5 separate regions of the Homo sapiens genome follow, and regions 1, 2, 3 and 4 are each linked to region 5. Evidence: fine-mapped expression QTL. A gene starts in region 5. Each other region holds a variant in brackets. All regions are shown on one strand. Distances are from middle to middle. Region 1 has its middle 9.8 kb from the start of ADAM30. Region 2 overlaps SEC22B (SEC22 homolog B, vesicle trafficking protein). Region 3 has its middle 31 kb from the start of NOTCH2. Region 4 holds the start of RNVU1-4 (RNA, variant U1 small nuclear 4). Region 5 holds the start of NOTCH2 (notch receptor 2).

What was found.
Region 1: its variant is fine-mapped to the expression of NOTCH2 in whole blood (TOPMed, PIP 0.90).
Region 2: its variant is fine-mapped to the expression of NOTCH2 in whole blood (INTERVAL, PIP above 0.99).
Region 3: its variant is fine-mapped to the expression of NOTCH2 in whole blood (INTERVAL, PIP above 0.99). The same link has a PIP of 0.9 or more in CD4 T cells and regulatory T cells.
Region 4: its variant is fine-mapped to the expression of NOTCH2 in whole blood (TOPMed, PIP 0.97).

The regions. Positions count from the first base shown.
Region 1 is chr1:119,903,716-119,908,820 of GRCh38, reverse strand. No RefSeq gene overlaps it. Among named protein-coding and RNA genes, the nearest start is that of ADAM30, 9.8 kb to the right of the region's middle. The variant T/A (reference allele first, on the strand shown) is at 2,639.
Region 2 is chr1:120,155,519-120,160,623 of GRCh38, reverse strand. It overlaps SEC22B (SEC22 homolog B, vesicle trafficking protein), which reads left to right. Exons shown (of 5, transcript NM_004892.6): 4 at 94-240; 5 at 3,432-5,105. The coding sequence ends at 3,586. Among named protein-coding and RNA genes, the nearest start is that of SEC22B, 18 kb to the left of the region's middle. The variant A/G (reference allele first, on the strand shown) is at 2,459.
Region 3 is chr1:120,097,797-120,102,901 of GRCh38, reverse strand. No RefSeq gene overlaps it. Among named protein-coding and RNA genes, the nearest start is that of NOTCH2, 31 kb to the right of the region's middle. The variant AAGGAGGGGAAGAAAAC/C (reference allele first, on the strand shown) is at 2,725.
Region 4 is chr1:120,942,283-120,947,387 of GRCh38, reverse strand. The region is part of intron 2 of LINC00623 (long intergenic non-protein coding RNA 623); the gene reads right to left. It overlaps RNVU1-4 (RNA, variant U1 small nuclear 4), which reads right to left and starts at 4,788; the gene lies at 4,625-4,788. RefSeq lists enhancers at 4,157-4,860, 4,792-5,101, 4,850-5,105. The variant G/A (reference allele first, on the strand shown) is at 2,998.
Region 5 is chr1:120,066,467-120,071,571 of GRCh38, reverse strand. NOTCH2 (notch receptor 2) reads left to right here and starts at 1,910. Exons shown (of 34, transcript NM_024408.4): 1 at 1,910-2,238. The coding sequence starts at 2,166. It overlaps LOC101929178 (a long non-coding RNA gene), which reads right to left and starts at 1,744. Exons shown (of 2, transcript XR_254374.4): 1 at 1,561-1,744.

The sequences.
Region 1 (5,105 bases), 160 kb after region 5:
AAATATATGTTTGATTGAATATGGGCTTTGTAACCTGGCCGATAATTTTGAGAGCTTCAAGAGCCTCATTGTAAAACATCACCTGTCTATTGCACGTGCCTATTTGAGAAAATTTAGGCTGGGCAAGCACTGAGATGTAGGGACCCAGCCCTTGTCCCGCTGTCATGCAATTGTCTCACATTTCTGTCTCTCTCCTTTTTCTCTCTTCCATGACCCCTTTCCCTTGCCTCCTAGAAAAGTTTGAAGAAAGTGGATTTGGAAGAGGATAGGCATCAACCACTAATCATGTTACATCAGAATGTGTGTTACTGTGCTTAGGTTTTACATATAAAACTAGGGTTTTACATATAATAGTTAGAAGGTTAATACGACTATATGCCTGGACAACTGAAGAAAACAGAGGAGAACTACCATAAACTATTAGGGATTCAGTAAATAAAATGATGTAAAACCAATTCACAGAAGAACCATTTGCAGGATGTAATTGAAAAGACCACATTTACAATAGTGCACACGTGCACGCACACACACAGACACACACCCCAATAACCTTAAAAAAATTCAAACCCAGTGGAGGGGCTTCAATATATATAGCTAACTAGAGGCATGTGGTACTTGTGTTTTTAAAAAAATTCAAACCCAGTGGACGGGCTTCAATATAGCTAACTAGAGGCATCTGGTACTTGTGTTTTCTACAAAGAAGAACAAAAATAACAAGAAGATAATCACACTTCAACTAGATCATCTAAAAGAGTACACAGGAATTCAACAGAAAAGTGGCCAGAAACACCTAAGGCAAGGAAAGAGAGAAGTGAGACAGCCTGCTCAGCCATGACCAGCTGGGAGCCCAGAGAGGCTCTCCAGTGTGGAGAAAGGGTAAGTGAGAGACCCCCAGCAGTCCACATTCCCACTGTAGATTCTTGCAATCCTAGCCATGAGATAACTCCTCGACCCTTGAGGACCTTAAAACTAACATAGGAAGCTGCCTGAAGACCATACAACTCTACTGCTCTAGAATGGGAGCTCACGCTGGGTCCCGCACACACCACCCCTGGCAAATCCTAAGCAGCTACAGCAAGGTTCCATTTTGAGAGTCCATCTCTCAGCAGAATGAATCCTGTCATGAGGCTCAAAAGCCTCTGCATCTCCACATCCTGGGTCCCCCGTTGATATCCTCCACCCACAGCTGCTGCTGCTGGTTGCTGCTGTTGGCTGCTACTGCCAGGCCCAAAGTGTAAGCCATTGGCTGTGACACTGCCCACCCCCAGCAGTTGGCCACCACACATTTATAAGCAACCTAAGGACAGGCTACCTCATGCACATCTTCCACTTAGGGCCAAAGCATGCACTCCCCAACCACCTGCCCATGGTTGCTGCCACTGAAAACAACCCTGCCCACTAGCAGCAGGGTCACAGGGCATCTGCTGCCACCCTCACCCAAGCATTCTGCCAGGGACCTGGTGTATTGGTGAGAGTTCTCCAAAGGGACAGAACTAATAGGATATATGCATATATGAAAGGGAGTTTATTAAGGAGAATTGATTCACACGATCACAAAGTGAAATCCCACAATAGGCTGTTTTCAAGCTGAGGAGCTAGGAAGCCAGTAGTGGCTCACTCCAAGTCCAAAGCTCAAAAGTAGGGAAGCCGACAGTGCAGCCTTCAGTCTGTGGTCAAAGGCCTGAGAGTCTGCAGCAAACCACTGGTATAAGTCCAAGAGTCCAAAGGCCGAAGAACCTGGAGCCTGATGTTCAAGGGCAGGAAGCATCTAGCGCAGGAGAGAGAGATGAAAGCCAGAAGACTCAGCAAGTCAGCTTCTTCCACTTTCTCCCACCTGCTTTTTCTAGCTGTGCTGGCAGCTGATGGGATGGTACCCACTTAGATTGAGGGTGGGTCTTCCTCTCCCAGTCCACTGACTCAAATGTTAATCTCCTCGGCAACACCCATACAGACACACCCAGAAACAATACTTTGCATCCTTCATTCCAGTCAAGTTGACAATGTTAACCATCACATCCAGGATCACTCTGCCCCTGTCTACCACAGCTAGCACCTGCACACACTGCCAGTGGTTGTTGAAGACAGGCCTGCCTGGCCCAGCTCTGCCTCTTCCCACAGTGCCCAGGCATACTGTTCAGGAGCCTGGAGATCACCCTGCCCCATCCACCACCTTCGGCATGTGAGCACTCCTTCCAGGAGCCTAAGGATGGGCCATCCAACCTGCTGCTACCACCACAGCTGGCACCCACCTGCATGCATGACCTACGGGCTTGGGGACTGGCCCAACTAGCAAATTTCTGCCCCTGCCAACCCCAGTGCAGACTGCTTGGAAACAAGAAGGTTGTCCCACTACTGCTACTGCCATCATCTATGCCTTGCTCACTGTGCAGGGGCCCAAAGACCCACCAACCTGTCCAGCCCACCACTGCCACTGCCAGCACCAAAGCAAGCCATTTGGAGGCCCAAGAACCAGCCTGTCTAGATCTGCTAACACTGGTGCCAGTGCACATTACCCTGGGGCTCAACAACAGGCATTGTCAGCCTGCCACTGCCACCACTGGGACACAAGGACTGGCCCATTTTGTGTCCCCATCCCTAGCAGAATGTCACCACAGCCTCCACTAACAACCACACCCTA[T/A]GCCACTGCTACTGATGCTGGTTACAGCCAAAGAAATCATACAGAGACTACACTACCGCATGCACCTGGAATCAAAGCCAAAGTGCCCTACACAACCAATACCATAGATACATCCTCAGAAAAAAGTCCTCCCTTATGAAAGCAAATTCACAAAATTGGAATAAGTGATTGTTACACCAGATGTGCAGATATCAGTGTAAAGACACAAGAAACATGAAAAAGCAAGGAAAGATAGCATCCTCAAAGGAACACAATAATTCTCCAGCAAAAGATTCCCATTAAAAAGAAACTTACAAAATCCCAGAAAGGAATTCAAAATAATGATTTTTTAAAGCTTAGTGAGATACAACAGAACAAAGTAAACAATACAAAGAAATTAGAAAAACAATTCAGGGTATGAATGAGAAATTTACCAGAGATAGAGGTCATACATAAAAGAACCAAACAGATTCTGAAACTGAAAAACTCATTGAATGGAATTAAAACATATATTCAAAAACTTCAATAATAGACTAGATCAAGCAGAAGAATTTCAGAGCTTGAAGACAGATCTTTTGAAATAACCCAGCCAGACAAAAATAAAGAAAAAAGAATTTAAAAGAATGAGTGAAGCCCACATGACATATAGCATACTATTAAGCAACCAAATGTTTAAATTTTTGGTGTCTCAGAAGGTGAGAGAAAATATAAGATCGAAAACCTATTTAACAAAACAATAGCTGGGAATTTTCCAAGTCTAGCAAGAGATTTAGACATCCAGATAACAGGAAACTCATAGATCTCCAAATAGATACAATTTAAAAAGGTCTTCTCCATGGCCCATTATAGTCAAACTGCCAAAAGTCAAAGACAGAGAATTCTAAAAAGAGCAAGAGAAATGTGTTTAGTCACTTATAAGGGAATCCCCATCAGACTAACAGCACATTTCTCAGCAGAAACCTTATAGGCCAGAAGATAATTAGATTATATATTCAAAGTGTTGAAAGAAAAAATGCCAACCAAGAACACTATACCCAAAATGTTATTTATAAACGAAAGAGAAATAGTCTTTCCCAAATAAGCAAATGCTGAGGGAATTCATCACCACTAGACAAGTTCTACAAGAAATGATTAAGGAAGTCCTGTACCTGGAAACAAATGGATGATATCTACCATCATGAAAACACATGAGTGTATAAAGCCCACTGGTAGAGCAAACACACAAATAAAGAAAAGAAAGGACTCAAATGTTACCACTAAGGAAAATCACCAAGCCACAATAATAAACGATAAAAGAGAAAGAAACGAACAAAGGATATACAAAAAACTCAAAATCAATTGATAAAATAAAAACAGGAATAAGCCCTCAGATATCAATAATAATCTTAAATGTAAGCAGATTAAACTTTCCACGTAAAAGATATAGACTGGCTAAATGGGTTAAAAAAACGAAATAAAACATGCTCCAACTATATGTTGCCTTCAAACATAGTGAAAGTATTCTAGCTTGATGTGTAAACAAGTTGTAAACTAACCTAGGAGTATACCCTTGTAACAAACCAACTGAGTCTCAGCCAATTATAGTAGCTGAACCTTCAGCAAATCCCAGGCTTTAAATTGCCAGATTATGCCCAAATAAAACAAACCTCAAACTGTACCAATCATTTAATCCCTGTATGTCATTTCTTGTTTCCTGATTTTTAAGTATAGCTCACCATGATGGAGGTGGGGGTATTCTGAACAATTTTTGGTTCAGAATGCTTCCCAGTTCTAAAACCTGTTTCCTGCACAAACTTTGTTAAATTTAATTTGTCTTAGTTTTTTCTTTAATAATTGTAAAATACAGCATATAAAGAAGTGAGGATAAAACTTTCAGGACTATTTTAACAAATATGTACAGCAAACCCTAGCAGTCAAGAAATATATTGCTAACACCCCAGCAAAAGCTACACCAAGCATACCCTTCTTCCTCCCTCCCTTCTTTTCCTGAGTATAGCCCCTTCCTTTCACCCTAGAAATAATAGCTCCCTGACAGGTTTAGTAATAATTTCCTCAATTTATTTTACCAACTATCCATTTGGGCTGCTATGACAAGATACCTCACGCTGGGTAATATATAAATTGAAGACAGATCTTGCTCACAGTTCTGGAGGCTAGGAAATCCAAGATAAAGACAACAGCAAATTTAGTGTCTGGTGAGGACTATTTCTTTCTTTGCTTCAAAGACGACGCTTTCTTCCTGGGTCCTCACATGACAGTAGGGGCAAAGAAGCCCCCTCAGGCTCCTTTTTAAGGGCACTAATCCCATTCATAACTCATGGGACCCTGCTGATCACCTCCCAAAAGCCCACCTCTTAATACCACCACATTGGGGATTAAGTTTTCACATTTCAACTTAGGAGAGACATAAACATTCAGACTGTAGCATTCTGCCTCTGGTGTCCCAAAATTTATTTTGTTCTTACATGCACATTCCATCCCAATAACC
Region 2 (5,105 bases), 89 kb before region 5:
GCCACCGCGCCTGGCCAACTCAGAACTTTTAATCTCCTACCTCAGTACTTTGATGGCCATGAAAGAAATGGTCAGTTTTCTTCATCATTCTAGATACTTTCATTCAGAAAACCAAGAAGCTCTACATTGACAGTCGTGCTCGAAGAAATCTAGGCTCCATCAACACTGAATTGCAAGATGTGCAGAGGATCATGGTGGCCAATATTGAAGAAGTGTTACAACGAGGAGAAGCACTCTCAGGTATCTAAAAGCAATGAGTCTTATGAAGAAATGGTTCTCATTCCATAGACAAGGATAGCTTATTTTGCAGTGCCTTTTATGCTATTAGATTCTACCTAGAACTGTTAAGAATTTATCTCCCAGAAGTACATTACATTACAATGCTTCCAATATATTTTTTTTCCTAGCATGATTAGTTTTTGTTGAGTTGGAACAGTGTAAAGGACTCATCCATATTAGAAGCAATGATTATTTCTAAGATATTCACAAAATTAATTAAATTATATAACTTGTATAAATTAAGGGAAATGAATGAGAGAAAACTCAATGATGTATTGCAGTGGTTTTTTGAGTAGCCTCTTTGGGAGACTTTACTGCTGCCAGATCAATCTTTATAAAATGCCATTTTCATCAAGGCATTCCTCTGAAAAACTTTTAAATCTGGGACTACAAGATAAGATCCAGTCTGACTTATTTTTCCGTCAGTCAGCCATTGTTATTGAGAGCTTGTTATTTGTAAGGCATTGTGCTCTACATATGGAAAATAAGGAAGATGCAAATGTCTGTCATTCTCTAGTTCACAAACATTCTTCTGTAGCCACACCAGCTTCTTTACTATCCTTAGTGGTCTATTCTGCCTTATGCTGGACCTGTTCTGTAAGACCTCCATAAGAACTGTCTCTTTAAAGAACCTTTCTCTGATCCTTATAGCCTGTATCACATTAATCTCTTCTGTACTTTAAACTCCTAAAGCACTTAATAACATAATGGTTTTAGCACATATTACATGTATGTGTGTTTACCTAATTTACCTTAAATATATTTATTAAATACCTCTTACCATATTAAATATATATTTAATATATATTAAATATATTTCCATATAACATAAGTATATATTTCATATATTTATATTAAAGTAGGCAAACATATTTGGATAATTAAATATTTTTATATAATTTCGTATATTTTTTTGAGACAGAGTCTTGTTCTGTTGCCCAGGCTGGAGTGCAATGGCACGATCTTGGCTCACTGCAACCACCATCTCCTGGGTTCAAGCGATCTTCCCACCTTATCCTCCTGAGTACCTGGGGCTACAGGCATGTGCCACCACGCCTGGCTAATTTTTGTATTTTCTTAGTAGAGATGGGGTTTTGCCATGTTGTTCCGGCTGGTCACAAACTCCAGGGCTCAAGCAATCCACTCACTTCAGCTTCCCAAAGTGCTGGGATTACAGGCATGAGCCACAACACCCAGCCCTTTATATAATTTTAAAAGTGTAGGTAATTAGGTAAAATTAGGTTAAAAGTATATGTATATTTACCTGATATTTAAATATTACCTAAGTGTTTAATGTGGACATGTAAGCTCTTTAAAGATAGTGCTTATGTATTTTATATCTGTTTCACATACTCCTTATATATCCCCCACAGAAATGGTCACAAATAGGTTCCTTAATAAGTATTTTTGAATTCAGCCATGCTATATATTCATTAGTAAGTGAGTTTTCTTTTATTATGAACTACAAACTTTAACCTTTTTTTGAGTAGTGAGCAGTTATTCATTTACCTTCACACTCTTTAAATACCAAATTTTGAGTGAGTGAGTGTGTAAGGTTTTGTCATACAGACTTGCAATTCCTATATGGGATAAAGTAGACTAGCACAGGAATTTTTCTTGTATCACTCATGCAAGACTCTAAATTCCTTAAAGGCAGGGATCATGTATATTTTGATCACTGTTGTATCCTCAGCACTTCACATGGTGCCTGTCACATAAATATTTGTTAAATGACTTCTCCAAGCAATAGCTTTGTCTTTATGTTATCCTGTATTTCAAAACGTTCATATATAAATTCTCTCAACTATGACTTGTTTCATAGGGTCTAATAATTGTTCCTCTGCTGAGTTATTCTCAGCAGATTTAGATTCATTTAGCAAATGTTTATTGAGCACTAACTATATACCAGGCCCTGTTCTGGGCATTCAGGATATAGCAGCAAACACAATAATTTAAAATCCCTGTCCAGTGAAGTGTATATTCTTGTAGGCTCTGTAAAAAGATGCCCTGTGCATTGTCATGGTTGTTTCTCAGTCCCTGACTCTTCTTCCGTGACTAGATGTTTTTCTTACTCATGTGATCAGTTGCTAATTCAGACGTGGCTGTCATGCCTGTGTTATTAAGTAACGCCATGTTTCCCAATCAAAACCAGTCTCTATTAAGCAACTCCAAATATTCC[A/G]AAAGCATTCTTTAAGGAAGAAACAACCGGATTGCAAAATAGTTTTTTCTGAAATTTCAAGAAGTGAAAAGTTTGATCAGAATTTATTATGTCAAATGGAGAGTTTGTGTTTATTATTAAAATATGCCTTATATTTTAATATGGTCTAGCTTGTGTCTATCTGGCTATTTCTCTAAGTGTTTAGTTAACTGTTATAAGAAGATAACAACATTACAAATGTCCTTGGGGGTGAAAAAACTTGCCAGAAAATACTAAAAAGCTTAATTTACTTGCGTTTTTTTTTGTAGTACTTATTGTATTTTAGTTACAACTTTCCTATGTCTATTGAAATATAAATCCTGATAGCTTTAACTTCATAGTAGTCTCTACTATGTGGAGAATCTTAGAAATGTTAGCAGTCATCATTGAAGTATAGCTTAAGACTGTGTTTGGTTAATTGAATTTTCTGGTTATCTGAGTTTGTTTTACATGGGTTATCATTATCGTTTTTCAAAATATAAGAGAATATGATTCAGACCATTAGAAGATTATGAAGATAATAATTATTAACATGTAATAATTATTATAATTTATCATGTGCAGGCATTGTTGCTCACTTTACAGGCAATCTCATGTACATACAACTTTATGACATAGTTACTGTTATTATCCCCAATTATAGATGAAGAAACTAGGTTTTAAATAGGTTACATGACTTGACCAATGTCACATAACTTGTACAGGTGATATCTGAACCAAAGAGTCTGAGGCCAGAACCTGCACTTCTAACCACCTTACTATATAGCCTCAAAAATTCAGACATCATCTGATCAGCATCATCAGTTAATTAGTATATGCAATGTTAGCCTTAAAATAAAAATGATGATTTAAGATTCATGGTTGTTGCAGTGCTGCTCATTTTGGTTTGCCTTAATACTTTCGGTAAAATACTTCCAGGGACTAATTAATGTTTTCCTTTTTTCCTCTTTGACAGCATTGGATTCAAAGGCTAACAATTTGTCCAGTCTGTCCAAGAAATACCGCCAGGATGCGAAGTACTTGAACATGCGTTCCACTTATGCCAAACTTGCAGCAGTAGCTGTATTTTTCATCATGTTAATAGTGTATGTCCGATTCTGGTGGCTGTGAAATAATGAATACAGTCACTGGTAAGGGAGAACCTAGAACCCAGTAGGTGTATATTTTCAGGAAACTGAGCTCACAGAGATGTGTATTAGAATCCAAGTGGAACTTCTGCCTCTAAAGACCTTGCAAGAAAAGAGATGCCCTGAAAATGAAAGGTTGCACCTCATTTAATGAAGCTTAACCCTATGTAGAAAGTCTCTTTCGGGGGCAGAGGCTTTCTCTGGGTGCCAAGCCATATATATTAGGGAATAGTAGATTGTTAATTTCGTTTTTTCCCTCCCAGTGCATTTTAAAAACAGCACTGGCTGGGGCATTCTCATTCTCTGATGGAGCCATCAATGAGATTTAACTTAGTCAACCTGTGCTAGCAACATTCTGAAATTCCTTCAAAGAAGGCAGTCCTTTGGGAAGGTGTTTTTTTTTTTTTTTTTTTTTTTGACTCTAATCAACATTCCTTTTGTTGGTGACATTTGTGATTTTCAGTAATCTGAGTTTTTGATGGCCTTTTAAACAAGACTCCAGTATGTGAAGGTTAATTGCTGTGCTCCACAGATCTTGTCTATTGGCCCCTGTAGAAAGTTAACCTTTGTTGTTTTCCTTTTATAATTTGCTTATTGCACAATTGCTTTAGGGTAAGTGAATTATATTAAGATGCCTTGAAATTATAGCACTCCTTGATTAAGAAGCTAAAATGTTTCTCTCATTTACTCCTTAAACAAAAGACTTAAATTAGTTTGGGTCATTATTACTTTTATTTTGCAGCATTTGGTTTGTTATTAGCGTAAGAGCAAGTATAGGATATGGAGAGGCCCCTGGCTTCATGAGAACAAAGGCAGGCCCAGGTTATAATTACAGCTTTCTCCTGCCCCTTCTTTACTTTCTCTACCACAGTTTTCTCCACTGTTTGTTTTCCTCTTGCCACAATTTGCTAACATTTAAAAAATTTTCCTGCACCCAGTAGTTTCATATCCTGTAGACATCCTCTTAGGACATTCTCAAATTTCAAAATAAAAAATATTCATCTATGTAGTTAATTAAAGTTAAAGTTTTTGCAGATCAACTACTCAAACTACTAAATACATTTACCTGAGAAAAAGTCTCTGAGAGCACTTCATTCCTGTTTTAGTTCGTGTAAATTCTCTGAGAATGTTCTGGAGATAGATAACTCATTTACAGTGGTTTCTATTAACTAATTAAAGTACCCATGATTTTTTCCTTTTCTGCTCAGGGATGATGGAGATTTCCTTTTACCTTCTGAGGTAGAATTTTTTAATGGGGAAAATAGGCCTTTTAAATATTATTGCCAGGGTCTGCAATATAACTTAAAATTCCTGTACATACTGCAAATATTTCTTTAAATTGCACAGGAAAATGAGCGAACTTTTTATTTCTTAATATCTTTGGCAAAAAACTTTAACCAGTAAGCAATTTTATAACCCTGAGGGATCATCAAAGATACTATCCTGATTCCTGGTAAGGAAAAATATATTATTTCCTTATAACAAGGCAAGGAGAAATGCTA
Region 3 (5,105 bases), 31 kb before region 5:
GCTCAGGTTATCCTCCCACCTCAGCCGCCCAAGTCATTGGGAGGTCTGCCCCTCTTGACCTCTTCCCTGACTCTGCCCTCTTCCCTCCCTGCATTGCTCCTCCACCCATTCCAGTCATTTATACCCTGATAGGTAAAAGAGGGCTTCTACTTTCATGGTCTCTCAAAGCACTGCTTTCCAACCACAGCCCTCAGCTATGCCTCAGTTTGGGCCTATCAGGTCTACATCCACATACCCACCACCCCTAGACAGGTGACAAAAGTAGTGCTTAAGAAATAAATGTGCTTTTTTGCCTCCCCCACACAACTGACTGCTCTGGCTAATATCACTGCTACACACTTTGCTTTCACTAATTATTATTGCCTGCCCTCCAGAACTGTTTTTTTTGCATACAACGGTTTTTGTCCTTAGTGTTTTTTTTACACCTCTTCTTGGTTTTATTATTATTGTTTTTTATTTTTTTATTTTTTGAGACGGAGTCTCGCACTTTGGCCCAGGCTGGAGTGCAGTGGCGCGATCTCTTGACTCACTGCAAGCTCCGCCTCCCGGGTTCACGCCATTCTCCTGCCTCAGCCTCCCGAGTAGCTGGGACTACAGGCGCCCGCCACCATGGCTGGCTAATTTTTTGTATTTTTAGTAGAGACGGGGTTTCACTGTGTTAGCCAGGATGGTCTCGATCTCCTGACCTCATGATCCGCCCGCCTCGGCCTCCCAAAGTGCTGGGATTACAGGCGTGAGCCACCGTGCCTGGCCCTCTTCTTGGTATTATTGATATTCCTGCAGCTAGACAGTACCCGGGAAGGAATGCACCAACTAGAAGGAGCTTTAATGAGCCTACTATGTTATGGCTGGCATCAGCCTTCAGAGAGGTTTGACATAGGATGCCATCTAATTCCCCGCCAGCCCATTCATTCTATCCAACTAATGGGAAAACTAGAGGATTGCTGATAATAATAGCATCAGCAAAAATAGTTACCATTTATCAAGCATTTACTATGGGCCAAGTACTATGCTAAATGCTCTGCATATATTTTCTCACTTAATTCTCAAAAAATGCAATGAGGAGAATGCTATTTTATCTCTAGCTCACAGCTGAGAAAACTGACCTGCCAAAAAAGCCGCTTAATGAATAAGTGATAGAGCAAAATTTTGAATGCAAGTTAATTTAAAGCCTGGGCATTCAGCCACTCTGCTGCCATTATCATACATCATCTGACTTCCTTCATGTCCCATCTCCCAACTTCTGTTTTTTATTTTCTCTTTTCCTGATTCTCCAGTTACCCACCCTAGCAGTGGAGGTGATATATATGAACTGCATGCCAAAGTGGGTGTAGACTCATAATGACAACATAATGACACCAACTGGACCATGGGAAATGGTGAAGGCAAGAGTAGTTATTTTAACTTGGCCCTTTGAAACAGAGACCCTGCCGCAAGTTATGAGGGGTTTAAGTATTTTCCTGTTTCATTTGCCCTTAGATCCCAAACACCTAGAACTGTGCCTAGCTCATAGTAGGAGCCCAAGAAATACCAGCATGGAAACCTGGAAAGCTGGGGTAAATCTGATGAAGAGCACAGGAGCCTTAGTAAATCCGGGTGATCTGAAACTGGCTCTTAGTTGAGCCAGATGATAGGATCTTAATGACAATTGTGCACCACTTCTCATTTCTTGCGACTCTTTGCAGGTTTGCTTCTTGCTGTCTTATTCCAACTAAAAAATTCTGTTTACTTTTCATGTATTTTCTCTACCTCAGAATTGCTGCTTATTCATAAATTCTGCCTTCTTATCACATGGTTCTGCTTCCTCATAGTTTTGGTTTGCTATAATCCTCCATGGCTCCACTCCATTGTATGCCATCCTTTCAGCTTCAGCTCCCATGGCTAACTGCTTCTTTCTATCCATGTTTCCCAATTCAAATCCCAGAAGGAGAGAATCTGATTGATCAAACTTACCTTTTCCATTCAAGCCCTGGTTTTTGGGAAGGCAGCCCCTAATGTCAAGGGCCAATCATTGGTCCAATCAGGAGCCATCCCTGGGCAAAGAACAACCTACCTCTGCTTCTCAAAGCAGGGGGCTGTGGGTGGGGCACTTTCATCTCAAAGAGGAAGTTGGGTGTGGCAGGCACTGTGTTGACATATCCAGTATAGGAGTGCCCTGGGAGCCCATCTCTCATTTCTGAAAGAGATAGCATTGTAGATCTGGACGTTTCATCACATATTCCCAGGAAGGCCCAGCCAAATGCAGCTGGTAAGTTGCTGAATGTGGAATTCCTCTTGGCCTTCCAACTCCTTGCACTCTTCCTTCTGGGACTACTTTGGTTTTTCAGTTTATTACCTGTTTGGAGTTGGCTTGTTTCTGGACTCTCTCTTCTGCTCAGGTGAGCAGACTTCTAACTGGAATACCTGGCTCTTGGACAAGGTGAGTGTTTGGATCCAACTTTGGTTCTGCACCATTCTTTCAACTTGGATGACATTGCCTCACCTCTTGTATCCTTGTCCTCTCCCTTCTACTCAATCCACTCTGCTCTGGGTTATTATTTACCTGAGGGTGCCTTCCCTTCCCAGACCCACCAACATACTCCTGAGGGAAGAACATTCAAAAGCAGCTGGTGGCTTCAGTGAGATCAATTTTTAGAGGAATGATCGGGGCAGAAGCTAGATAGAAGCAAGTTGAGGAAGTGGAAATAGTGAGTGCAAGACACTTTTCTGAGAAGTTTAGATGAA[AAGGAGGGGAAGAAAAC/C]AGCTATGTGTCAAGAGTTTGGTGTGTGTGTGTGTGTTTTATTTTTTTTGAAAGAATTTGCTTCTTATTATATAACACATGATTTTGTAAAACATTTTGAAAAAAACAAAAATTATAAACAATATGTTTACAATTGCCCATTAAACTACTACGTAAGTAATTACAATAGTTACCAATTTTTGAATACCTACTAAACAGAAGAATTATGCTAGGAACTTCATGAATTATTTTTCTATTTCTTGTGCAATACAATGTCCCAGATGGGTCAGAATTCAGACAGATATGGCTGTGATGCAGAATTAGACAACGTCTCTTCCCTTTAAGCAATGATTGGCATCCATTGATTTATAAGGAGGCTGAGAAGTTTGCTGGGGGCAAAATGGAAATATTTGCCTCAGTAGGGTCTTCAGCATTCATGGGCATGTCTGGAGACAGTTCCAGAGGTAGGCAGAGTGCTGGCAGGAATGGTGGGGCCCCTGGAGAGAGCACCGTTGGTTGAGGAAGGAGTTTGTAATGGTAAGACTGGGCTTTAGACCTGGAAGGTCATGGTAAGTCTGACTGTCACAGGGAAGGGCCTAACCCAGCTTCCTTGCATGTGTCTTCCCAGAAGAAAACAAAGAAGGGCCTCTGAGTCATGGAAAGAGCCATGAAACTCTTTAATGCTCTAGGGCCTATCGCCCAGTAACTGGTAACTCAGTGTTATATTAAGGAAGAGAGCTTTTCTTTTCCCACTTTGAAAGAGGATGCTGACAGACATCACAGGGGCTATCATAGCCCTCAATTTCCCATAAAACCGGCACCACAGTGCCAGCTGTGATTGCAGAAAAAGGTTTTTATCCAAGTTGTGTTAAGGAAATAGTAGTTGATTTCAGTTAATTCAGTCATAACACTTTACCTTGAGCATTAATGCTGAAAAAGTCAACTCTCTTACTTCCTGTTTTTCAAAAGCATTATTGGCTAGGGTAACTGTGCAGGGCTCCACGCTGACACCGTTTGTGGACTTTTAGCTCACAGTGGTGCTGTCAGTGCCAGCATCTTGGTGTCTGGCTAACTATAACAATACACATGATGACAACACTGGCTTAAGAACACAGGTAAGATCTGTCCACCAATGACACCCAAATGTCTTTGTACAAAAACACCTACTCGATGAGGCCCTCCCTGACCACCTTATGTAAAACCGAGCAACCCCTCTGCCTTCCTACCCTCTGCCTACCCCGACTTTCTTTCCATAGCACTTATCATCATCTCATGTTTTGTCATTTTTGTTTCTTTTTCTTCTTTTTTAATCATCGTTTTTCCTATCCCAAAAAGCAAATGCCAAGAAAGCAGTGTCCAGGTCTGTCTGTTTATTGTTGTGTCCCCAGAGCCCACATCAGTGACTCACACAGAGTGCTCAATATTTATTGAGTTAATCCATTTCATGAATTTCTCATAAATATTTGGGGAAGGATAAGAACTATTAAGATTTTTAATTAACATGATCACATTTGGATTTATAGCTCAGGAGAACCAAGGATATTTGCTTACATTTATACCACCCTTACAAGGTCCATACTCTAATATGGCCACTTTACAGGTGAGGAAACTGAGGATCAGAGTGAAAGCAACCTGCCTCAGCCCCCATAGATAATAACGATCAGAGCCAATATAAACTGGTGTAGTAAGTAAGAAGACAAAGTAGGTAGTATTGCTATAGGTAAAGCAAGAGCTAAGGAAAGCCTTAGTTGATATGGCAGAAATAGGAACAGAGAGAAAGGGACAGAGAAGGAAGAAACTGTGAAGCCTGATTAGAAATATGGAAGGCAGAATTCAATATACTCCTAGAAGCAGCCCATGAAAATAAAATGAAGAAAGAAGGATTTTTTTTCTAAGAGGAGGGTGGCTTCAATTTCTTTCAGAAAAGATTGGCTAACTGAAAACTAAGAAAGAAACAAACCAAATCCTTGTAGCTTCTAGCACATCTATGATAAAATTCTGTTAATTGGATTTCATACTTGGATTATAACTGCACAACACAAGAGAGTAAAATGCCTTAAGACAAAAAGAGTAAAAATTGAGTCATAATATGGAGACGATACTATTCTGGCAATAGTATTCAAAGAATGGACCAGGGAGCAGTGCACAGCTTTGGGAAGCAGGGATTGTCAACATTAGGACTCAGAGTTGTTAGTGATGAGGTTCCCAGGCAACATAAGAGACCCTTGAAAAAGGCTTTGGCTTAGGGAAAAAGAATTATAGGGGCCAGACGCGGAGGCTCACACCTGTAATCCCAGCACTTTAGGAGGCCGAGGTGGGTGGATCACCTAAGGTCAGGAGTCCAGGACCAGCCTGACCAATATGGTGAAACCCCGTCTCTACTAAA
Region 4 (5,105 bases), 880 kb before region 5:
AGGGTAACTTTGTCTGATATTGGTGTTGTGAAATTTTTCGTTTTAACCATAGAACACCATGGCCTAGGTGTTTGTCAGACCAGCTCTAGCTCAGAGCAGAAAAGGCTTACCTTTTTCTTTCTCAGAAATGACTATGGAAAACAGTAAACAACAAGGGCCGGGAGCCATGGCTCAGGCCTGTAATCCCAGCACTTTGCAAAGCCAAGGGAGGCGGATCACTTGAGGTCAGGAGTTTGAAACTGTAGCAGGAGTCATAGACAAAATCCCTCAGACACCCGATTGTGGAATGTAAGAGCTTTTTTCAGCTGGGACCATCGGTAGACTCACATCCTAGAAACCGAGCTCCCCAAATAAGTAATTCTTGTCCCTTTTAAGGGCCCACAACTCTAAAGGGGCTGTGTTGGGGGGGTCATGATCAACTGAGCAAGCAAGGGGTACGTGACTGGGGGCTGCATGTACTGGTAATCAGAATGAAACAGGACAGAAAAGGGAATTTCATAATGCTTTTTTATACAATGTCTGGAATTTATAGACAGCACAATCGGTGAGGTCAGCGGTTGAATTTTAACAACCAGGCCCGAAATGTGGCACCCAGTTGTCTGAGCGTGATTTTCACTTCTGCCCATTCTTTCAACCTCCACTTTTTCAGCAAACAAGAAATTAAGTGTAAGACAATATGAGGAGTGGTCGCTCTCAAAACCAGCTTGGCCAACATGGTGAAACCCCATCTCTACTAAAAATAAAAAAATTAGCCGGACATGGTGGCAGGCACCTGTAGTCCCAGCTACTGGGGAGGCTGAGGCAGGAGAATCGCTTGAACCTGGGAGGTGGAGATTGAAAGTGAGCCAAGATCCCACCACCGCACTCCAGCCTGGGCGACAGAGCGAGGCGAGACTCTGTCACACACAAAAAAAGCAGTGCCTTCAAAAATCTCAGAGAGAAATTATTTCCACCTATCTTTTTGTATCTCTATCTAGTAAAATATCAATTAATTTTATGGGTATAAAAGACATTTTCAGACATGCAGTGTCTCAAAAAGTTTATTTCTAAGGTAACCACTTTATAGGAGGTTTTGGAGGATATGCATCATCAAAAGGAAGAAGTGAGTGAGGAATGAACCCCCTTGAGATCCATGAAGCAGGGGATCTAACAAGAGAGAGGCGATGGAAATCCCAAGATGGTGCAGTAAAGAGAGATATTATGATAACAGCTGTGGGATAAGCCTGAAGAGCAAGTCATCCAGAATGGAACATATAGAAATGTGCCAGGAAAAATTTCTTTCTTTCTTTCTTTTTTATTTTTTATTTATTTTTATTTTTTGAGAAGGAGTCTCGTTCTTTTGCCCAGGCTGGAGTGCAATGGCGTGATCTCGGCTCACTGCAACCTCTGCCTCCCGGGTTCAAGTGATTCTCCTGCCTCAGCTTCCCAAGTAGCTGGGAGTACAGGCGCCCGCCACCATGCCTGACTAATTTTTATATTTTTATTAAAGACGGAGTTTCACCACGCTGGCCAGGCTGGTCTCGAACTCCTGACCTCAGGTGATCCACCTGCCTGGGCCTCTCAAAGTGCTGGGATTACAGGCGTGAGCCACCGTGCCCGGCTGCTCTTTTTTATAGACGAAGAAATTGAGGTACAGAAAATCCAGTAACGTTTTAAAAGTCACGTCATGAATGAACCAAGATTTCAACCCAGAAATTGAGGCTTCACTACAAGTGAAGACTGGGGTTTTCTTGTTTTCAATTATTGGGAGTTTTGGATTTCCAGGAATGTGCAATTGTAAAAACCCAGCTTCAAGAGGTGATGAAATAGGTGCAGTGGCTCTGGCGTAAGCTCTGAAGCCCCAGGCTCAGGCTCTATTGAAAAATTACTTTTGCTGAAATATTCCTGTTTTTAGGAACTTCCATGGAACTTGAGCCTTCACGCAGCATATTTTGGCATCTGATTCAAAGCTAATAGAGGTCCGGAGGATTCCCAGGATTAAAGTCTTTAAACAGAAACTGTGAATCTTGCCTAAGCAAAAGGTGCCATCCCTGGATGGGCTTGCACCACCAACCTTTCAGTTAACAGTCAAACGCGCTAACCGATTGCGCCACAGAGACTCTAATGGCTTGTGTCTTAAACTCATTTGCTGATACCAGAAATGGCTTTTTAACCTCTGGCTGCAGATAATCTCATATATTTGATGCCTGTCCAATCCCGCGCACTCCAGAAACCCAGAATACGGGAGACAATGAAGCCAAGAGTCGAGTCTTTGGGCACTTTGGACGTTCTACCCGGGCAGAGTCAGCTGGGGGACTCCAACGGCCAAAGGGCCACCTGCTCCTCACCGTCTGCTCTTCACTGCTTCCCCCGCCTGCTCTTCACCCTCTCAAAAGTCGCTGGCCCCTCTACAGGTGACAACTGCAGCTTCTCCGGCGAAAGCCACTCGCTTTCCCATTCTTAGCCCCGCTCACACCTTGCGCTCACAGTCATTTCCGCCAGGCCTGGGCCAGCGGACGCGCGCGTGGGAAGGACCAGAACCCGTGGTGTCCTCACTGCGTCCCCCTCGGGCCCTCAGAGGTGGGATCCACAGGAAAGGGACCTGGAGTTTGCACAGGCTGCAGCCCTTCGCCCAGAGCCACCCTAGCACCTAGTAGGTGCCCAATAAATGCTCAGTGAAGGAAGGCATTCCACCGCAGGGTTTTAGGAGAACCATGAATTCCTGGATGAACATTAAGCGTTTAGTCCTACTAGGAAGTCTGGAATATAGAGACTTGAACTGTTTCTCAAAGGCAGCTGTTCTTGTATCCCCAGAGCCGGTTTAGAATCCAGCAAAGGCCCCTGCCCGGTGTATCCCACCTCTGGAGACCCGAGGATAGTGCGGTGGGGAGCACCGCGGGTTCTGGTCTTTCCCACGCTCACGTCCACTGGCCCAGGCCCAAAGGAAATGGCTGTGAGAGCAAGATGTGAAGATAGTTACAAATACCAGCTAGGGCCAGTGACAGTTGCAGAAATGAG[G/A]ACTTGTAATAGTTAGGAGTATTTCTTCATTATTTTGAGATGAATACATTTGGTTATATATTAACCAATACTTTTCTTGAGAATTCTCATCTTCCATCATCCTCGCTATCATATTCATTAATAGTTAACTTTTAGAAATCTCAATATTTAGGTTACAGGATAGCAAATATGGAATGTGATCTAGCTAAAAAAGGAGTGAACATCATTCAAAGACAAATAAAAGACTTTATCCTGTTGGGGAAAGGGTTGGCATATTTTCACTGAATGAGAAAAAGTATGATTTTCCTATTGTCTTTATTTGAACCTTAAGTATGGCTTTACAAGGAGGAAAAAGGAGGAAGAAGAAGAGAAAGAAGAGGATGAGGAAGAGGAGGAAAAGAGAAGGAGGAGGAGGAAGGTGCACATTGATGCCACTTTGAGAAGAAGTGGACTGTGGTGGATTTGTAATGTATCAGTTTTGCCAAGCTGAATGCACATTTCCCAGATTTGCCATCTTTAGATAGCTCTAGGTTAGCCTGGGCAACAGGAGACACTTGGAAGATAGAATTCAAGTGGCTGTTACACGCTTTTGTATACTGGGAAGGGCGTTGTTACAGCTCAGGCATGATCTTCATCTTCCCTGACCCTTGGACTGGTGGGTGTTTTGCTTCTTGATCTAACATTAAGGTTAGAAGTTGCAGGATCCCAGCTGGGTTTTGTTACATCCAATCTGGTTTAAGTTCCCATATTATTAGGAAAGCTTTAGGGTGCTTCAGGAAAACGCTTTTCAAAAAATCAGATTTGGAAAATATCAAATGGAATTACAGGCAATAAGCATAACCCAGTGGAAACATGAATCAAACCCTCTAGAGCAGGGTTGTCTAAATTTTGGGTTCCTTGGGCCACACTGGGAAAAAAAAAAAAAGACATTTGTCTTGGGCCCAGCATAATATACACTAACTGCAACTGAACCGTGCGTGTAAAGCTTGTAAACAAAATCTGTCTGTAAAGTCTGTAAACAGGCCAGGCGCGGTGGCTCAGGCCTGTAATCCCAACATTTTGGGTGGCCGAGGCGGGCGGATAACTTGAGGTCAGGAGTTTAAGACCAGCCTGGCCAACATGGTAAAACCCTGTCTCTACCAAAAATTCAAAAAATTAGCCGGGCCTAATTTTTTAGTGGCCTGCGCTTGTAATCTCAGTTACTTAGGAGATCGAGTATTCTCTGGCTGAGGCAGGAGAATAGCTTGAAGGCAGGAGGCAGAGGTTGCAGTAAGCCGGGATCCCGCCATGCACTCCAGTGGACTGTTTGCTGTTAATAAATGTTTACAATGGGCTCCCGTAGGGAAAAGAAAAGCTTAGTTTTATTTCTATAGAACAAAAAAAAAAGTTAAGAGATTAGTAGAGACGGGTCCACCATATTTGACCACACTGACATCAAACTCCAGAGCTCGAGCGGTATTAACATAAAGTTATCAATGCATCTCACAGACTACTGAGATTACAAGCGTGAGAACCAACCACTACCTGGCAAAATCTTTACTTTGAAAGTAAGTTACAGATGGGAACAAAGACCTGTTTATTAGTTTATACTAACGCCTTGTATATGCTTCCACAGCAAACAAAATCCACTTTTAAAACGACAACAACCCAGGGAAAAACACAGACACAGTTCCCCACTGCCACAAATTATGTAATCAAGATTCCCACATTCGGGGAAATCACAGGGGTCAGCACATCCACAGTAAAACTGCTAAGCCTTGCTCTGGAAAAACCACCTTCGTGATCATAACATTTCTTCTGCCAGATAAACATAAGTATAAGCTCACGCCCCTCCGCCCCGCCGCAGCCTCATATGCCTCACCCTTTACACGCAAGGTCACTTGCGTCACGCGCATCCAGGAGCCATCCTAGCCCTAACACACAGCTGCGACTCTCCGGTCCGACCAGAGGTCCCAGACTTACTCCCACGGCACGGGAACTCTTTCGTGGCGAAGCAGCAGGTGGCGAAGCAGCAGCCCCTGCGCTGCCTCATCTACATAGAAATCGCCCTCTCCGTGATGTCACCGACAACGCCTTCTGGATCCCCGTCTGCTCTTCCGCCTCACCCAACGCCCCTCAGCGGAGCAACC
Region 5 (5,105 bases):
TGCGGTGTCGGCAAAGCCTTCTTTGGACTGAAGGATGAATTATGATTAGAAGTTCATTAAGAGGAGGAGGGAAGGGGACTACAGGAGTCATTCCAAGCCAAAGGAACAAAAGATACAGGGACAGAAACAGCAAGATATGTTTGGGGGAATCTCAAGTTAGTCAATACTGTTATTGTGTGAAGTTCACAACAGGGGCAGGGAGGACAGGAGATGGGGCCCAATGACGAAAAGGCCTTGTATGTACCATGTTTAGAAGTTTGAATTTTATCCTATAGGAGTCAGGGAGAGGTTCTATGGGTAGGATTTCCCATCCCAACAGGATTGTAAACTCCCACATCCAATTAGTCACACCTCCATTTTTTTTTTCTGTTTCTTTAACATTGTCTCGGATTCATTCCTTCTGAAATCTACCTTATTAGTTCAGGTCTTCTTAAATTTGTGCCTGGACTGTTCACCAACTCTTGACTGGTCCTGGGGCTCCAGTTCACCTCTTGCTCCCCCAACAATCAATTTTCTACAGAATTATCAGAGCAATCTTCCTTTCCATCAATCTCAACTCTGTTCAAAAACTTTCAATAGTTTTATGTGACCTAAGAGGTAGCTGCCTCCCCACCCTTTCAGCTTGCCATTCAAGGCTGCATAATTTGGTCCCAACCCCCTTTCCGTCCTTGACTCCTCTCACTGCTAACAGAGACAGAACTCATTTACTTACTCTTTTGACTGTACCTTTGCTTTCACGAGGGCTCTTTCCTGGAATGATATGTCCATACAACTATTGTTGCTGTTCTTACTTTTAGCTCTTTTCTTAGAAGCCCACTTGTACCCAGGTTTGATCACACCCCCTACTCTCCTGCCCTGGAAGTAACTACTATTCTGGTTATAGTCTCTTAATATCTATATCTATATATATGCATCCACAGATAATGTGTAGTATTGTCTTGAAAAAAATATACATAAATGGTATACTTTGTCTCCCTCTGTGATTAGTTTTTTCACTATCATTTAGTTTTTAAGATTTATCCCTATTGACATAAATAGCTATAGTCTTTTCAATTACTGTGTTGCATTTCATTTTATAAATATACCATACATTATTCATCCATTCCTCTAAGGGTGGGCATTTATGTTGTTTTCAAGGTTTTGCTATTACAGTGTTACAACGAATATCCTTAGCTTAGCTGGTCTCCTTGTCTTATACAAATTTTACTGACCTTTCAAGATCCTGCTTTCATCCCAGCTCCTCTGGGAAAGCCTTCCCTGAATCCCCCAGCCCACAGCGGCAAAGTCTTGGTACTCAAAGTTGCTTGTGCATCTTTGGTATCATCCCACTGCCAAGCACACAGCTACGCAAAGTAAGGCACTTAAGAAATATTCGCTACACGGATGAACAAATGAATGAATGAATGGGGCAGCACCACTCCGTGATGGCTCTATTCCTTTTTAATGGACTTTGGCGCCTTGGCCCACTTTCCTTCTTTGACAGCACTGGTCCTACTCCAGAGCATTCCTCTAGCTAGCAAAGCAGTGTGTGGATGTGTGGGTGTAGGTGGCGATACAGACCTCACTGGATGAGGACCGCCTCTCCCTGCAAGTTCACGATCCCGGCAAACTCCAGTGCTTGAAGTTCAGAGTCCTACCCCACCCCCCTCACCCCCACGCCCCTTCTGCACTGGTCAAGCCAGCGAGCCGCTGCAGCCCTGATCGAGTTAAGGCGCGGCGGCCCCCGGGGCCGCTGGAGAAGGATGCGGACGGGGCCAGTGACTCGTAGTAGATCCCTCCGCGCGGAGCTCGGGCCGGCGCTTCTTCCTGCGGGAAACCCCTGGGTGCCCAAGGCGGCGGGGCCGAGGCCGCGGCGACAGTGGGGCGGGGCTTGCGGTGGGAGGAGGCGGCTGAGGCGGAAGGACACACGAGGCTGCTTCGTTGCACACCCGAGAAAGTTTCAGCCAAACTTCGGGCGGCGGCTGAGGCGGCGGCCGAGGAGCGGCGGACTCGGGGCGCGGGGAGTCGAGGCATTTGCGCCTGGGCTTCGGAGCGTAGCGCCAGGGCCTGAGCCTTTGAAGCAGGAGGAGGGGAGGAGAGAGTGGGGCTCCTCTATCGGGACCCCCTCCCCATGTGGATCTGCCCAGGCGGCGGCGGCGGCGGCGGAGGAGGAGGCGACCGAGAAGATGCCCGCCCTGCGCCCCGCTCTGCTGTGGGCGCTGCTGGCGCTCTGGCTGTGCTGCGCGGCCCCCGCGCATGGTGAGTATCGGGCTGAGGGGCGCTGTCCGCGGCGCCCGGGGCTGCCACCTGGGGCGACCCTTCTCCCCCTCGGTCCTTCTCTGTGTGGGAAGGCCAGGCTCGGCCGCCGGCGCGGAGCGAGGCCACTCGCTGGGTTCCCAAGAGTTTGGACATCGCCGGGGGCCCCTCCCGTGGTGCCCCGCCAACCGCCGGGGTTCCCCGCCGCCTCTGCTCCCCGCGGCCCGGGACCCCTTACACGCCTCCTCGGCAGGAGGGAGGCCGGCAGCAAGTCTCAGAAACTCCTTTTTCGTAGTGCCAGGGTGCAGGGAGGTGGGCAGTTTTGCCCTTCAGGTTCCGCGTTTCTTGGGGTCGAGCGAGAGCCGACGGCGGGCCTCGGAGGGGCTGAGCGAAGGAATGCCAGATTCTGGCGTGGAGAGCGGGGGCAGGGCCGCCAAGCCAAACGGCCTGCACCGTCGCAGCCAGCCTCGCCTTTGCCAGGGGGCGGCACATGGGCCGGGTGTGTGGGCTTGGTTTGGATGGGGACGGGGTTTTGCGGCGCGCCTGAGTTTTGACACTCCAACCCCACCGAAAGTCCGGGGGAGCCGTGTGTGCTGCTCGCGTCTTTGAAAGGTGGAGGCAGGAGAAGTAGGGCAACTGGTGTGGCTGCATGCTGAGGCACATGATTTAAAAATCTCAACTGCTGTTATTCTTTCCGAGGCGCGGAGCTCTGCTGCTGTTTCAGGCTGTGTCCAGACCCAGGAATGTGGTGTGACGATCACCAATTCCTCCAACCTGGCAGCAGCATTTGCTGCTCCTTTGGCATGGCTGGGGGTGGGGCACGGGCGGGTGAGAAAAAGTGGATACGTTAATTCAAAGGGCTTCCTTAGAAAGCTTCTTTATGGTTGGATGTTTCTAACACGGTTGGACCAAGGAAAGGGAATCAAATCATATCTTCCCCATCCCACCCACACTTTTAGATTCTACATTTCTTCAGACCCTTTAGTGGAAATAACTTGGGCTTTGGAGCCCTGCTCTGTAATCCTGGATTCAAATCCAGCTCTGCTATATGAACTCACCAATAAAATGGGAAAGAAATTATCCAGCTAATAGGATTAATTAAAATAATGTATATTAAACGGATGACACTCCAAAGGTGTTCAGAAAGTCCTTTCAGGGCCGAGGCTGTGTTTTACTGCTTCTGAGATTGATGCTCCCAGTGGGATGCTGTCTTGTGCATATTTGTTGAACGGAAAGCAGCCCCTTCTTTTTCTGAGCCTAATCTGAATAAAGATTTTTACCTTCACCAAAAAACTAGTACATGAACTACATCTGTTTTCAAAGAAAAGGTTAGGAAGATGATGAGCTTCAGAAAAATATGGTCTTTGTTCATTGTTAACAGTCAGTCGACATGTCAATCGCAGATGTTTAAAAAGAGAACAAGGTTATTTATCACCCGAAAATAGTACTGGGTTGTTCAGCACCAACTAGATACTTCTTGGAAAGTTCAAATTTCGTACACGTCTAGGTCACTAAGAATTTCAGAAGTGGACCAGGAGGCTTTGTAGTGATGAAGCAGAGCCGTTGTTTCTGAAGCATTTAATAAAGAGCATATATGATGGTGTTTTTGCTTTTCCTTTTTCTTTGAGTGAAAGCTTTAAGTGTAGCTTTAGGATAGAGAGGAGTATGATCAATGAGACAGTCTGAGGGTAATAATCCTTGGTCTATCATTAACTTGTTTTGGTAAATAACTTAATCTTCATGATATGTAGTCTCCTCACCTATGAAGCAGGACTAAAGGAATAACCTGCTTTAGAGAATTGTAGGGAATAATAAATATAATTGTAAAGTGATTTGAAAAATTAAGTATTAAATAATATGATATCAGAAATGGGATTACTCTGACACATAGGGCTTCTTTTATTATAGGATCTCAGTGCATAAAACTATGCCCTCCACCTCTGCTCTGCTGAGGTGCTGCGATTATTAGCTAGCTTTTAGGTAGTCAAGTTGAGTGTTAGTCAAGTTGACTCAAAGGATAGGATTTAGATATTTTGATTTTTAGACAGGTGTTCTTTAGATGCTAAACTAATGCAGTAGAAGAGATTTAGAAGCCGTTTCTCGGTACAAATCTTAAATCTTCTTAGAGTCTACAGTGAAGGCTTCTTGAATCCTCTTAATTTATTATTGTGTTTTGCTAAGGTACCAGTTGCAGCACACCCTTCTAAACTTTTGAGTGTTCCTGTGTTTGGCTTGTGGCCAATTGTTAATTTAAACATCACGGAGTTTCTAAGGCAAGGAGATGTTAGCAGTATGTCTGATTGTCTAAACAGCTATCCAGGACCATCCTCTTGCTCCTTGTTTTCTTTTGCTTTGCAATGGGAAGTGACTCCCTGATTTTGCTGCCTGCTAGATAATTTCTCAGCTGAATTCTTCTCTTGCTTAAACAAAATCGGAGTAATTTTCTTTCAGATGGTGATGAAATTTAACCTAAAACTATTTTTCCTTTCACTTTCTTATTATTCCTTTTTTTTTGGTGTGGTGGAGAGGAGGAGGAGAGTGATTCCTAGTCTCTCTTATTTTTCTGAATGTTTAGATTTAAAAAATATTTACCCATAACTTCTTGGGATCTCTCTGCTCCATTCCCACCCTACTGCCTCTCCTGTAGGCTTCTATGACATAGAGGAGCAACTTTTGGTTCACCTGGATTGTAGTTGCTGACTTCAGGACCTTTAGAGAATGTTTAAATTCAGTGGGATATGCTTGGATGGTTCAGAGCAGCCTTACAATACATCTTAAAAATATCACACCCACAGAAATTCTATTTTGCCCACAAAATTTGCATTGATCTAGTTCCCACTCTGTGTTGCCATTCCTAGTGATCCTCCTCC